Homo sapiens: one gene and its partner. The protein of the gene in region 1 purifies or fractionates together with the protein of each later gene. This does not show direct contact. Each region holds a gene or a part of one and is shown on either strand. Other genes may lie near its edges.

The links. The genes of interacting proteins can lie anywhere in the genome.
Region 2: the proteins of GFPT1 (region 1) and GARS1 fractionate together in Homo sapiens (co-fractionation; 3 studies listed by BioGRID, with this or other methods). This does not show direct contact.

What each region holds. Positions count from the first base shown.
Region 1 is NC_000002.12:69,384,227-69,391,526, reverse strand, and holds the start of GFPT1 (glutamine--fructose-6-phosphate aminotransferase [isomerizing] 1), read left to right. Parts: upstream 1-4,299; 5' UTR 4,300-4,455; coding exon 4,456-4,462; intron 4,463-7,300.
Region 2 is NC_000007.14:30,597,852-30,604,877, reverse strand, and holds part of GARS1 (glycine--tRNA ligase isoform 1 precursor), read right to left. Parts: intron 6,083-7,026; coding exon 5,981-6,082; intron 4,932-5,980; coding exon 4,829-4,931; intron 3,820-4,828; coding exon 3,678-3,819; intron 1,845-3,677; coding exon 1,756-1,844; intron 1,383-1,755; coding exon 1,306-1,382; intron 1-1,305. UniProt on the Homo sapiens protein: Catalyzes the ATP-dependent ligation of glycine to the 3'-end of its cognate tRNA, via the formation of an aminoacyl-adenylate intermediate (Gly-AMP).

The DNA.
Region 1 (7,300 bases):
AGCTAGGAACATGAACTCTGGCATTCTGGCTGCAGGGCCTATGCACATTATAGCTATACTATTCTGCCTTAAGGAAGTTGGGCTCATACCCCTCTTGAGTATTCCTACTTGAGGGAGGAGAGAAGCTTTCCTTGCTTTCATAGCTACTTACGAGTGGGCAAGAGTCTAGAACCACAGTAGACAAAAGCAGTGGTATGTACATGTGTGTCCATTTTTTTATGCAGGAATATGAAACTAGTTGCTTTCCAGTCCAGAGGGAATCTACACCCCTCTTGGGAAATCCCAGCCATATACTCCATTTTGCCATATCAGTGTTATCTGTGATTATTCCCTAGGAGCTTACAAGATACACAGAAGCAACTTTTCAAGTATCCCTTGAAAGAAACCCTAGAAAAATAGTACTTTTTCTGTGTCCTTACGTTTCAAGTGATCTTTCAGTTCTAGGCAGCTCCCTGAATGGTCCACCCCTTATTGTGGCTCTGTTCACATCCAACAGGACAGAAATAGTAGGTTAAAGGTAGGACCAGTTTATCTCATGGTTTTCAATTTGTTGACTTTCTTGGCAGTAGAAAGAGTTTCTTTCTCGCAGAGCTAGAAAACTCTGCCCCAGCTTCTGCCTACTGGAAAAATTTGGAGCCACGTTGGAGAGGAGTATTGGGGAGGGCATAGCTTCTAGTTGGAGTTAGCATCCTTTGTCCTCAAGCCTCAGGTTTTCTGGGGGGCAATCAGGTCATATTTGCTTGATGCGGTGGACATATTTTTTTGTGTGCCTTCTTGGTGTTCTTCTTTTAGCAACACCTTCCCCTTTCCTTTGAAGAACTGCTTCCTCTTGCCGTATGTGGCTATATGACTCTATAGGGCTTTGGTGGAGCTGTCCTATCACAATGTCTTGCCTTCTTTGCCACAGGAGTGGGGCATGTGACTCACGCTGGACTGGCCAGAATCCTTGTCTAGAATATAAAAAGTAAGGATGGAGGAATAGCCTCTCTCATTTTGGGCTGCAAGCTATAAAGTTGTGATTACAGAGCTATTTGAGGATTATTTCCCTGTCCATGAGGTCAGAGAGGTAGTTCAAGAGTTCTGACAACATTCTGTCCCTGGGTATAAATGTGCTGAAAGCTGTTTGTATTCCTGTTCTTTCCAATTACGTGAGCTAGTAAATCCCCTTCTTTAGTTTGAGTGGTCTTCTATTTATTATTTGTCAGTGAAAGCTCTGCCCTCTAGGCACATCTTTCACCATGACTGTGAGAAATAAATTTGTGAGAGCTGCATCCTTGAAGAGCTCTGTGAAAGCTCTTTCTGTGGGAGTGCTGCCACTGAATTGGGAAATCTAGTACTCATCCTGTGGGTGAAGAGTAACCACGATATTGGAAGCAAGGAAAAACTGGATCACATTTGTATTTTTGACAGGTCCCTCTGGAGCCAAAGTGTGTGGGATGAACTGCGGGAGGCTAAAGGGGTTCACTCAAAGGGTCTTTCTGAGGCCTTGATTGGTGCCTTTTGTTCTTGTCCTCATTTCTTTTCACAGGCCTCAGGGGCTCAACCTATTTCTTTTTCCTTTGATACTTGCTACCATCTTCTCTGTCCACTGGGGTACATTTCTCCACAAAGCTCCCTAAAAAGTAGGACATATGTACCCCAGCTCCCCATATTCTTATGCAAAGGAATTTTTATTTTAATAATTTTATTGCTATTACTGGAATTCACATAAGGGTTAATAAAAATGACTACAGCTATTTCAATTAAGGTTCTTCGTTGCGTTAGTAATGGCAACTGGAAGCTCTGATGGCCTTCAGCCATCAGATCCAATGGGACTGAATCTACGAACAGGGAAATGGACTTACATAAAGAGATGGTGAATGACACCCCCTTGCCATCATTACTTTTTTTGTTGTCGTTCAGAATGTTTTGATCAGGAGAGAAAATCCATTCCCTCATTTGTTTGAATTAGACCCAGATGTCCCCTTCCCTTCATAGATCATTTATTTTCTTCTCCTTCAGGCCTTATTCCCAAAGGTCCAGTTAAGGCGGAGCTCTGTATAAAGGGAGGTCAGGCACCCAAAGTGTGTATCTTAACTGGCGCATGGTTACAAAGAGTTCTTTGTTGTGTTGGGTTAGTGAGGTTCTTCAAGGCTGATTTGGGAAAATACTGTCCTTCAAAGTTTCTTCTCTTTTTTGTCAAATTATTTTTTTATTTACTTTTTTTTTAACTTTTTTTTTTTTTTCTGAGTTGGGGACTTTCCAGTCTTTACTGAAAACTTTTAAAAATTTGTATTTAGACAAATTCTAAAAGACCTGTAACACTAGTTTCTTCTTCTCAACTGATTCATAAATATCTTCCAAAATAGTTTGTTGAGTGGAGATGGATAAGACAAATTGATAGTCATTGTGGTGGAGTAGCAGGCAGAAGAAGAAAGCAAAGGGTTAAATAGATTACTATAGTTGGAGCATGAGAACTCTGGTAGTACTGCTGACATTTTCTTTGTGGCATTGACAGGTTTGCTGCCAGTGCACAAAGATGTTGCTTAAGCATTGGAACCATACCTTGGCTTTTAGGTAATACAACGGAGTTCTAACCAGAGCCTTAGATGAGGGTTCTGAGGCTAGATGTATATCCACAGTCTTTTGTTTCTTGAATTAAGAAATGTATTATTACCAAAAAGCTCACTGTTTTTTTTTTTTTTAAACTTTGCTCTGGGTGATCCAGGGACCTGTTTAAGGGATTGAAATATCAAAAGGGCTTTTAGGTGAGAAATACTCTGCTTAGTTAAATGTGACATTTTTCAGCTTCTCTGAGGCAAGTGAAAAAAGGCACTTTTCCCCGTAAGAAGAACTGAAAGCCTTATGCTCACTTAATCATATAACCAGCCATAGAAGGTTAATTCCGCTAAGAAAATAGGACTTTTTTTCACTCATTCCAAAATAAATTTGATCTTTTACTTTGTGCTGTGGTCTAAAAGTGTTGGGTATGTAAAATCTAGTTCTAGCTTCAAGAAACTTACAGCCCAGTGGGAAAATACAGAAAATCATAAAATATCAAAGAATATTTCTTTACAGTGAGTAGCTCAAAGAGTAAGAGGTTAATGCATGTCTCCAAGTCTGTCTAGGGGGGATAAAAAAGGCTTTCCTGAAGAGGTAGCATCTAAACAGAGACGTGGTGGGGATTCTATGCAGAGTAACCAAAGTGTGCAAAAGATTTGAGAATCTTGGCCCAGTTGAGGAACTACCTGTTGAGCCTGTTGGGAGTGTATAGGGCTGGAAGGACGGCTAAGACCAGACACATGAACAGCAGTCAGCAGGCTAAGACCAGACACATGAACAGCAGTCAGCACTCCAGGAATTCTGTGTGCCATGTACGTTTTTGATACTACTCTACTCTAGAGCCATTATAGAGTTCTGATTACTCCACATTTGACTAAAGATACCATTTAAGGCTGTTTAAAGCAAATGCCCAGGTAATAAATTCTCAGAAACATCATCCCTCTCTAATCAAGTCTCTCTTGTCAGACATGGCGCATTAATTCATAGAATGAATCGTTCGTAAGTCAAACGCGCGGCTGTTAAAGCTAGGGAATTCCTAGCCGTCTCAGGTGGGTCATGGGAGGAGGTGGGCCAGCAGTTTCTTACGTCCAGGCTCATAGTCGGATAGTTGAGCCTTACATTCCTCCTCTACCCCTCCACAATAAACTGAGGGTTATGGAGGCAACGGATGCGGAGGGCTTTTAGGGGCCAAGCATATTACACAAGGAATTGAATTGCTTATTACCAGAGAGGCTGACCTTTGGGGCTTTACAGTCAAGAATTTTGTTATCTCTCTCCTCCCACCTCAACCTAATTCTTTGCAATTTTTTTCAGCCTTATGTTCCCCAGGATTCCCTTTTCATACTTCCTGCTTTTTTCCTCCTCTTTCCTCGCTTCGTGCAGTGCTGGCGCCTGGGGCCTGGGGCTGCACGGGGCACGCACCCGGGCTATTGCTTTGCTAACAATTCCATCCTTCTCTTTCCGTCATTCCCTGCCAGGTGCTGAGTTTCTCCCTCCCTCTCGGCTCGGTCCCTCCCGCGGCTCGCCCCGGGGCGGGCGTCTCCAGGAACTCCAGGCGGACGCGGCCACGAGCCACTGCCACGTCGCCGCCGCCAGCAGTCCAGCGCCTGCGTGGGCTCGGGGGGCGGGGCAGCGCTGGGAGGCGGGACTTGCGCGTGAGCGGCGCGTGAGCGGTTCAATGGAGCCTACGGGCGGCGGCGCGCTGCGCGCCGAGGGGCGGGGCCCGGCGGCGGTTGCTGGCGGAGCCCGGGAGGCGGAGAAGGCTGTCGTTGCCTTGGCCGTCGCATCCCCGAGGGAGTCGTGTCGGCGCCACCCCGGCCCCCGAGCCCGCAGATTGCCCACCGAAGCTCGTGTGTGCACCCCCGATCCCGCCAGCCACTCGCCCCTGGCCTCGCGGGCCGTGTCTCCGGCATCATGTGTGGTAAGGGGGCCGGGAGCGGGGGGCGTGTTGCCGGGTGGCGCTGGGGTGCGGTGCGGGTGCCGCTAAGGCCCAAGGCGACGGGCGGAAGCGGGAGTGTGGAGGGTGCGAAGTCTGGGTGATGGGCAAGGGGCGCCCAGTGGTGGCTGCGGGGGCGGGGGCCGGCATCCACGGGCGGGAGAGGGGGTGGCGGCCGGGAGAAAGGCACCTGAGAGGAAGGCGGGCCCCCTTTGCCGGGGGCTAGCGGGCGCCTTGGCGCGGAGAAGGAACCGAAAGGGGAGAGAAACGCCTTTATTGAAAAAGGAGGAGAGAGCTGAGGGAATTGAGGTGTGGAGGGGGTTGCCTTCAAAAGGGCCCACCAGGTGAGTGAGGAAACCTGTGGAACCTCGGGCGAGGTCTCTTGAACTTACCTTGCATTTTTCTAAAAATCTTTAAAAAAATATTTTACTTGTTTCTGGGGAGGCCCAATAGAAAACAGACCCTAGCTAGAGCCACGGTAGTGCCATTAAACGTGATACTTCCTGCCATCCCTTGTCTCAACAGAAACCATTGCTAATCAATAACTTGGTTCATGGGCTTAGACCTGATCCTCTGGTGGAAGAGGCCTTCAAATGTCTGTGGCGATAGGTTATACATAATTTATCATTTGCGTGTGCACCCATTAAAAATGCCAGCTCTGAAAAATATCAGTTATACCTTGGATGTATACCCCTTTAGAATACCAACTATGAAAAATATCATTTATCCCTTGCATGTGCATCCATTAAAAATACTAGCTATGGAAAGTTGAGCAAATATCTTTCCTAGAGCCTTAAAAAATTAAGGTTAGGCCCTTTTATTCCATGTTTTGAGAGTCGTTTATTATGACCTAAGTGTTAGTGAAAGAGACTTTGAGAATCGTGTCTGACATGACTGATATCTTCTAAAATTGGTGTTAATTTGGCTATTGCCAGTAAAAATAATTGTATTCTTACCTTTCTTATTGAAATTTACAACCGACTTTATCCCTGGAAGAAAGTACACTTTTTTTTTTTTTTTTTAAAGGGAAGTACCATTGTAAGAGAATTGAAAACTCTCTGGGAGACTTCTTATTTGCAGCCTTTTACACGAAGGAACTGAACAGGAGGTGGATTGTACTCGTTAGTGTATATATTTCCTGTATTTAACTTTATGCTCATTTCAGCTTCTGAAAATGAGGAGCAGGTTTAAATTTAGAGTAGATTAAAAAAAAACCCACATAAAAACAGAAACACCTATAAATAGCTTACTGAAATTATTAGAGTAGAGCTGACTTCAGAATCAGACTTTTGCAGTGTCTACTTAGTAGAATGGTTTTGCATTTAGTTTGGAGCTGTGAAGTAGTGAATTTGCAAACTGGTCAATCTCCAGTGTGCTTCATTTGGTAGTTAACTGTTCCTGAATGATGAGGGGTGTGCCTCATCAAGTACTCAACATTCTGGTTGCAGGTCATTTCATCATGTTCCAAGAAAAAAACGTAGTCAAAGTACTTACTGAAAAAAAAATAAATAAATAAATAAATCAGCGCTGGGCGTGGTGGCTCCCGCCTATAATCTCAGCACTTTGGGAGGCCGAGGCAGGTGGATCACCTGAGCTCAGGAGTTCAAGACTAGCCTGGCCAACGTGGTGAAACTCCATGTCTACTAAAAATACAAAATTAGCTGGGCGTGGTGGTACGCGCCTGTAATCCCAGCTACTCGGGAGGCTGAGGCAGGAGAATTGCTTGAACCCAGGAGGTGGAGGTTGCAGTGAGCCGGGATCGCGCCATTGTAATCCAGCCTGGGTAAAAAAGAGCAAAACTCCATCTCAAAAATGATAAATAAATATAAATAAATAAATCAGATATGGAAATCAGGTTCAGATAAGGGAGATACCTTTAGGGTGGAGACTAAATGTTGGGAGTTTTCACATAGTTTGTGTCTCCATTCCATAGAGTTTTACGGCTGAGGAAACAGGTATTGAAGAAATAAAAAGTGAATATTTGAGGCATTTCTGAGGTCCTGCTTTTAAGTCATACCACGGTTTTGCCTGATTCTAGGGATAGGGTTCAGAATTTATTTTCTCTCTAATGTAAATTCTGAAAGATAAGAAGATGAGTGTCATTATTTTCCTCCCACATCTTAGTCATTGAACTAAAATTCCTGAGCAGAGAAATGGAGTGAAAATTAGACTAGATGGGAAAATCTGGAAGCTTACTTTCTGATTACTTGCTATCTAGTTAAGTTTTTCTCTTTCTTTCCTTCTTTCTTTTCTTTTCTTTCTTTCTTTCTTTTTCTTTCTTTCTTCTTTCTCTCTCTTTCTTTCTTTCTCTTCTTTCTTTTCTTTCTTTCTTTTTTCTTTTTTTTTTTTTTTTTTTGTGACGGGGCCTCTCTCTGTCGCCCAGGCTGGAGTGCAGCGGCATGATCTTGGCTCACTGCAGCCTCTGTCTCCGGGGTTCAACCTCCCGAGTAGCTGGGATTACAGGGGTGTACCACCACACCTGGCTAATTTTTGCATTTTTGGTAGAGGTGGGGTTTCACCATGTTGACCAGACTGGTCTGCTGACCTCAGGTAATCCACCTACCACAGCCTCCCAAAGTGCTGGGATTACAGGAGTGAGCCACCTTACCCGGCCCTAGTTAAATTTGCCTAAAAGATTATTTTATTTCAACGTTGTGCATTGTTGAAGCAGAAGAATGAGGATTGAAGATTCTGATGTGCTTTTTTTCAATCAGATATACTGATAAAATTGATATGTTTACCAGCTTGTATTGGGATGTTAATAAGTGTTAGGAAAAAAGATCCTCTGGTCCAGTAAATTTGGGAAGCAACATATTAAATCGC
Region 2 (7,026 bases), on another chromosome or scaffold:
AAACATATACACAAAACCTCAGTAAATCTAAAATTCTGAATGGAAAATTTTAGGGATACTTAGAGGCATTTTCCATTTTTTCTAATAAAGGGCATGCCTTTGGATAAGAAAATGAGATGAACGTGTGGCTTCAACAGTATCAAAATGTAAGAAATAATTTTCTAAACCATGAGTAATTACTAAAACAATGAGCTTCAAGCAAGGGATAAAATTACACTCCACAAGTATCAAAATAAATCAGCAGATGATTCAACAGCCAAATTAAGAAAGTTTTCAATGTAAATGAAGAAGGAGAAATTATTTTAGCTATGTTGGAAAGTTAACTATCACAGAGAAAAAAAGCATGCTAAAAAAAAAATTAGGACAACAGTGGAAAAGTATCCAGTAATTCCCATGAAAAACAACATATTAGGGAGTTCTATATTCAGGCAGAGAGAGAGAGAGAGATCGGTGTAAAGAAAATAGGTATAATCACAGTATTGGTTTTTTGTTTTTTGCCCAAGGAAGTAAATAAAATTTAAGAGGTGAGCCTCAGTAGACCTCATGACTAAACATGGTGTTGGAGAAATGTACTTTGCCTAAACGGAATAGCCAACAGATGAGGTGAGACACCAGCAACATATATACATGAGCACATGCATCTTCCCAGGGAGACGTGCAGTTTTGATCACATTCTTAGGGTGGTCTGTGACCCAACAAAAGGATAAGAACTACTTCTAATATAGAAAGTATTCCTGCAATTGGTAAAAGGTCAGAATAAATTATCTCTGTGGTCTCTTTTTTGTCTTCTCTAAAATTTGTCAGCTTAAATATTATACAAATTATAAAACTTTAGGCCTATAGGCAAACTGAGAAAAGCAAGGACAGAAAAGTCAGGACCTGCTCATGAGGTTCTAAGAATAATAGCATGAAATCAGGGTCCAAGCAGAGGCAGATCAAGTAGCCAGTGAGAAAGTGCTCATCAAGTTATCTGCCCCGAAGTCTCCACACCAGTGCTGAACACTACCCATCATCAGTCACTCCTGTGGTTTTAGCTATTAAATCCAGAAAAGTAGTTTCCAAGGTCAGACAAATTGAATGCCTATTAACACGGACTTGTTAGTTTGGGCTGAAATAAAGGGTTAGTCACAAAAGAGAGAAGAAAATAAAAATGCAAAAAAAGAGACGCTATACAGGACAGAATTAACCTCTGCTTCATTACAATGTGGCCAGGGTCAGCATAATGGGAAATGCAACAGTCATTAAACACTGAAAGAAGGACAGCGACCACCTAGGTTACTCTGATAACATCTCTAGAGTACTCACCTGGGCCAAAACACTTTCCATTTCTGATTTCTTTTCGACAGAACACTTCTTATCAGACATCAATTTCTGTAAATGAGCTGTAAGAACAGTGTTGACATATATCAATCAATGGGAAAAAGGACAATGCACTTTTCAGTTTCAATGCTAGACAATTAAAAAGTAAATCCAAGCATAAAGTTCTTAATTTACATGAATCCCACAGTTGATTTTACAACAGCAGTCATGGTATTGTCTTGATTCATTTGCTAATTAGAAAAATTATCTGTATATAACTAATTATCTACATATAACTTTTTTAAAAAATAAAGGACTTGATCTATATACTTAAGATCTGTGCACTTTGCTCTTTGAATGTTATGCCTCAATAAAAAATTTAATGAAAGACATCTGAGAGAAAGTTTAAACCTTTTATTTTGATCAATCCTACCTGAAGGAGATGAAGAACCTCACCTTTTAATAGATGGTCAGCACGAAAACATTCTCCATTTTTTACGTCTTTCACCATGAAGTCAGCAAATTTGTCTACATGGCCAGAGGTCCTAAATTAACAAATGCCAACCCAATTTGTCATTCTCATACAAATTACACATAGATATTACCTTATAAGATAATTCCCCATCAATATTTATATCCATCTCAAAGATGGAAGCTCCCATATCTATAGTAATGATGTATCCATGACAGTAATGGATGCCAGAGAAAATTCTTCCTCAAATCTATTTCTCACCCTCTCCCACATTCTTCCTTCCCATAAGAAAGAAGACATTAACTAGACAATAAAAAGACAATTCTTTTCTACAAGTTGTCATAAAGTCTGTACTATTCTTCAGGATCAATTAATCCATGCCTATGCCATTATTATTAGTGATCTAAGCAAAGGCCAAAATCACTGGGAATTTGACTAGTTAAGAATTCATGGCAGCTCAGTATAGACATTGAACCTTAAGGGAAGTGTTTTCTGCCACTGAAACCTGTACTGACATTGGTATTATCTCTACAAAGTTCCTATTGGTGGAACAAGTAGCTAAAATGATAGGTAGTCCTGATCTTATAGAGCCATCATTCAGAATTCCTCCTCTTCATTGGCTGAAATTATTAAGAGAACCTAACGGATGCCAATAGTAAAAATTAGCTCTCCACCAGTCAACCTTAAATGAATAATGACGAGTTACAAAATGGCAAGAATTCCTCTTTCAGGCCGGGCGCAGTGGCTCACGCCTGTAATCCCAGCACTTTGGGAGGCCGAGGCAGGCGGATCACGAGGTCAGGAGATCGAGACCATGGTGAAACCCCGTCTCTACTAAAAATACAAAAAAATTAGCCAGGCACGGTGGCAGGTGCCTGTAGTCCCAGCTGCTCTGGAGGCTGAGGCAAGAGAATGGCGTGAACCCGAGAGGCGGAGCTTGCAGTGAGCAGAGATCGCCCCACTGCACTCCAGCCTGGGGGACAGAGCGAGACTCCATCTCAAAAAATAAATAAATAAATAAAAGAATTCCTTTCAGTTTCACATTCTGAAATTCTGCCCTACTTTGGGAGGCCGAGGCGGGCGGATCACGAGGTCAGGAGATCGAGACCACCCTGGCTAACATGGTGAAACCCCGTCTGTACTAAAAATACAAAAAAAAAATTAGCCAGACGTGGTGGTGGGTGCCTGTAGTCCCAGCTACTTGGGAGGCTGAGGCAGGAGAATGGCGTGAACCTGGGAGGCAGAGCTTGCAGTGAGCCGAGATCAAGCCACTGCATTCCAGCTTGGGCGACAGAGCAAGACTCCATCTCACACACACAAAAAAAGGAAATTCTGCCCTACTTTCAATAACGTTGGTAGGAATAATCTAAGTTTCTGCATTGAAACTTTAAAACAAATAGTATTTAACTGAAAATCTCTACAAGTATACCTTTGCTCAGAACTTGTATTAAGGAAATAATCAAGGATATACCCAAAAATCCATCTATCAAGATATTCGGTGCAGTCAAAAATGAGAAACACTTTAATGCTTTCAATATGGCACAAACTAACATATTATGGCACTTCCATAAAACAGAATACTATGCTATCATTAAAAATGCTTTAGATGAATAGTTAATGATATGAGTATATGTTCATCAATATTACATGAAAATAAGCAGTGTACTGCTAACACTGAAATACATAGGGACGTACAGAAAAAACAGGAAGGACAAACACAATCATCTTAACATAGCTATCTGTGAGCAGAAGGTATACATTTCTTTGCTTTTCCATATTTTTCAGATTTTCTACATGAAATGAGTAGTTCTTTATAATCAGGAAGTTATTTAGATAAGTATATTAAATAATTTAATAAGTTATTTTATTTAAAGTAGGATACCCCCACTCCAAAGTAAGATCTCACTTTAAAACTGGCTCAGGGGTGAGCATGGTGCAATCGATCTCCAGGATCTGTTCCTCTTGGATAAAGTGCTGCCTCCAGGTCTGAATAATATTGTTCTTCAAAGCACAGCCAACTGGCCCAAAGTCATACAGACCACTAACACCTATAGAATATGAGAGGAAAACACATACTTTACCTTGTTACTCTGAACAAATGAAGGCAAGGAGACATGAGAAACTGATACCTATACTCCCTAAAAGTGTATTCAAGTCAACAATGCAAATCCCTCAATACTGAAGAACCTTACTTTCAGCTAGCTGATGGAAGTAAAATAAAAAAGCTCTTACGCCATTTACTAATTCTATATTTGTAATTTCAAGTAGGACTAGCCCAAAATCTACAACAAAAGTTCCCCCTTAGAGAACAGAATGAAAAAGCAGATTACAGTTTTCTGCCGTAAAAATTACAAAATAATTTCTCACCACATCTGATAACAATGATCTATAATTTTAGCATCCAATTCTCTAATTTTTTCCTGGGTATTTGAGGCACTATTTAACCTCAAAAGGGTAAACATTTACAGATCCACTTAGCCAAACTCAAGTCAACTTTCAGTGGCAAAGTACTATATGTCTAATGTTGTTGTAATAATCCGTTGACTATGAAAAATATAGTTTTACATTTCATCAGTGAATTGTATTTGCCTATATACCTTCATATGGCATTCACAGTGATTTATCTACATCCCTGGGAAGAATGTTTTCTCCTGGCAGATGACCATAAAGAATAATCTAAGGACTGTTTTATCACTGCCCCTGTGTGAAGGGGCATAGTATAGTTAGCCAGTACTACAATGGCCCTCTGTTACTCTTCAGTCTCCATTGCATTTTAAAAAGAGTACATGAGTACACAGACACATCAAATACATACATGGGCCTCCAACAATTCCCTACATCCTAATCAAAAAAAGTGCTGTCCAGGAATAAATGCAGTGGAGAAAAATAACAGGTATCACACCAAATGGTGACTCCAAGCAAACAAAAGCAAAACATCCATCCTCTGCTTTGTGGCCTGATACAAGTGGATACCAACAGGCAAGCCATGTTCTTGATTTAAGTATAATATTAGAGCCACTAACAACACAATAGTTCTTTTTGTCATTAATCCCTTACCTCCATAAATAGCAAAAGCTTGATCATAGAAAAACCTCCTCTTCAGGGTATCTTCCATTTTTGCTCGGTCTACAATATCATCTTTGGGCTGTAACGCCAGCTCCTGTTAGAGATTAAATAAAAAGTGAGTGAGTGGAGGGGTGGGTGGGAATCTGAACTTATATATCTGAATTTAGTTTATTCCTCACCAGAATTAAATATAAAATTTATCAAACAGACAAGATTTTGATAGGTTAAAAACAATAGAAGCCATAGGTCTTTTTTTCCCTTTGAGTAATATAAAAGATATCTTTACTTAATCATTTAGGAAAATATATGATCATTTCCAAGATTACAAGACTAAGCTTGACCAGGTGCGGTGGCTCACACCTGTAATCCCAGTACTTTGGGAGGCCGAAGTGGGTGGATCACCTGAGGTCAGGAGTTCAAGCCCAGCCTGGCCAACATGGCAAAACACTGTCTCTACTAAAAATACAAAAATTAGCTGGGCTTGGTGGTGGGCACCTGTAATCCCAGCTACTTGGGAGGCTGAGGCAGGAGAATCACTTGAACCCGGGAGGCAGAGGTTGCAGTGAGCTGAGATCGCACCATTGCACTCCAGCCTGGGCAACAGGGCGAGACTCCATCTCAAAAAAAAAACAAGACTAAGTTTACTTTGATGTAGATACTGATAAGCAATATAAAGCAATATTTGAATTGTCAGTGGATTGCTATAGCAAAATGGTTACTTTAAAACCCCAAAACAACTTAAGTTTGGTGATGGGAGATCTATTGTTTGAAAGGTCTGGGAGCAGGTATCAAATAAACAGACCTTTTCCTTAAAACAAACAAACAAACAAAAATCATTATTTTCAGGCATAAGAGAAGTCGTAAAGAAGAGCACAATCCTTTCCATGGAAATTCATATAGCGTATTGAGTCCAGCATTTGCAGGGTCAGGAAGGCTTTATTAAAAAGTTGACATTTTGAGTTGCATTTTGAAAGGATGAGGAGTCTACCAGGTAGAGGGAAAGGAGAAGGCGGCATTATGGATAAACAGATAAACCAAATGATACTTGTTCAGAAACTTTTCTAGGTCTCTCCCATCCAAAGAAATTAAAGATGAACAATCCTATACCTACTTATGTTCCTATTTTAGCATCCCAGGACTCACCTTTGCTTCCAGAACCCTCTTGCGGGCTTTGAGCTCAGCCACTGCTTTGTCTACGTCTACTTGGGGTGCTTTATCTTCTTTGAGTTTTCGCACAAGATCTCCCTAGCCAAGAAAGAGAATTTATATTCAGGATTGGTTTCAGAAGTTAAGAAATGTTAGGAATGTGTTTTTAAGCGTGCCTTTTAAAAAGTCTATGTAAGAATGATGCAATTCAGGCCAAGCGTGGTGGCTCACGCCTGTAATACCAGCACTTTGAAAGGCCCTCCTCACCATCTGAGATCAGGAGTTTCAGACCATCCTGGCCAACATGGTGATACACCATCGCTACTGAAAATACAAAAATTAGCCGGCCGTGGTGGTGGGCACCTGTAATCCCAGCCACTTGGGAGGCTGAGGCAGGAGAATCACTTGAACCCGGAAGGCGGAGGTTGCACTGAGCTAAGATCATGCTACTACACTCCAGCCTGGGTGACAAAGTGAGACTCCGTCTCAAAATGAAAAAAAAAAAAAAAAAAAAAAAGAATGATGCAATTCAAATGTTTATTATGTGAGTGATCATTATGAATCAAGGTCTCTGCCCTCTTCATTTAATAATCTAGAAGAACACACGGGCAAGTTAACAAATAACTGCTCACATGGTGAATTTTTTCCTTTGGGTATAGAGGGGTGAAAAAGGAGGAGACAAAAGCATTGATTAAAAAGTAGGAAAGAGCAAGATTTGTACTGAGAACACAGAAGAACCAATAAATTGACCACCTTCTTAAATCTCTCTCCTCTCGCTTACAAAAAAAAATAAAAACATTATTCAGTTTTCCTCCCACTTCTCTGACCATTCTTCTCAGTCACTGCTGGCTCATCTTCCTTTGCCTTTCTCTTTACAGTTGGAATTTTTTCCTTGCTAATATTTCTGAATTATTTTATTAACTTCCAACAACTTATACTAATTCCATATTTATAGTAATATGGTGGAATAGGTCATCTGAGTAAACAAACAAAATATTACCTATATAGGATGAAAAACTTTCAGCTGAGTAATTAAAGTTGTT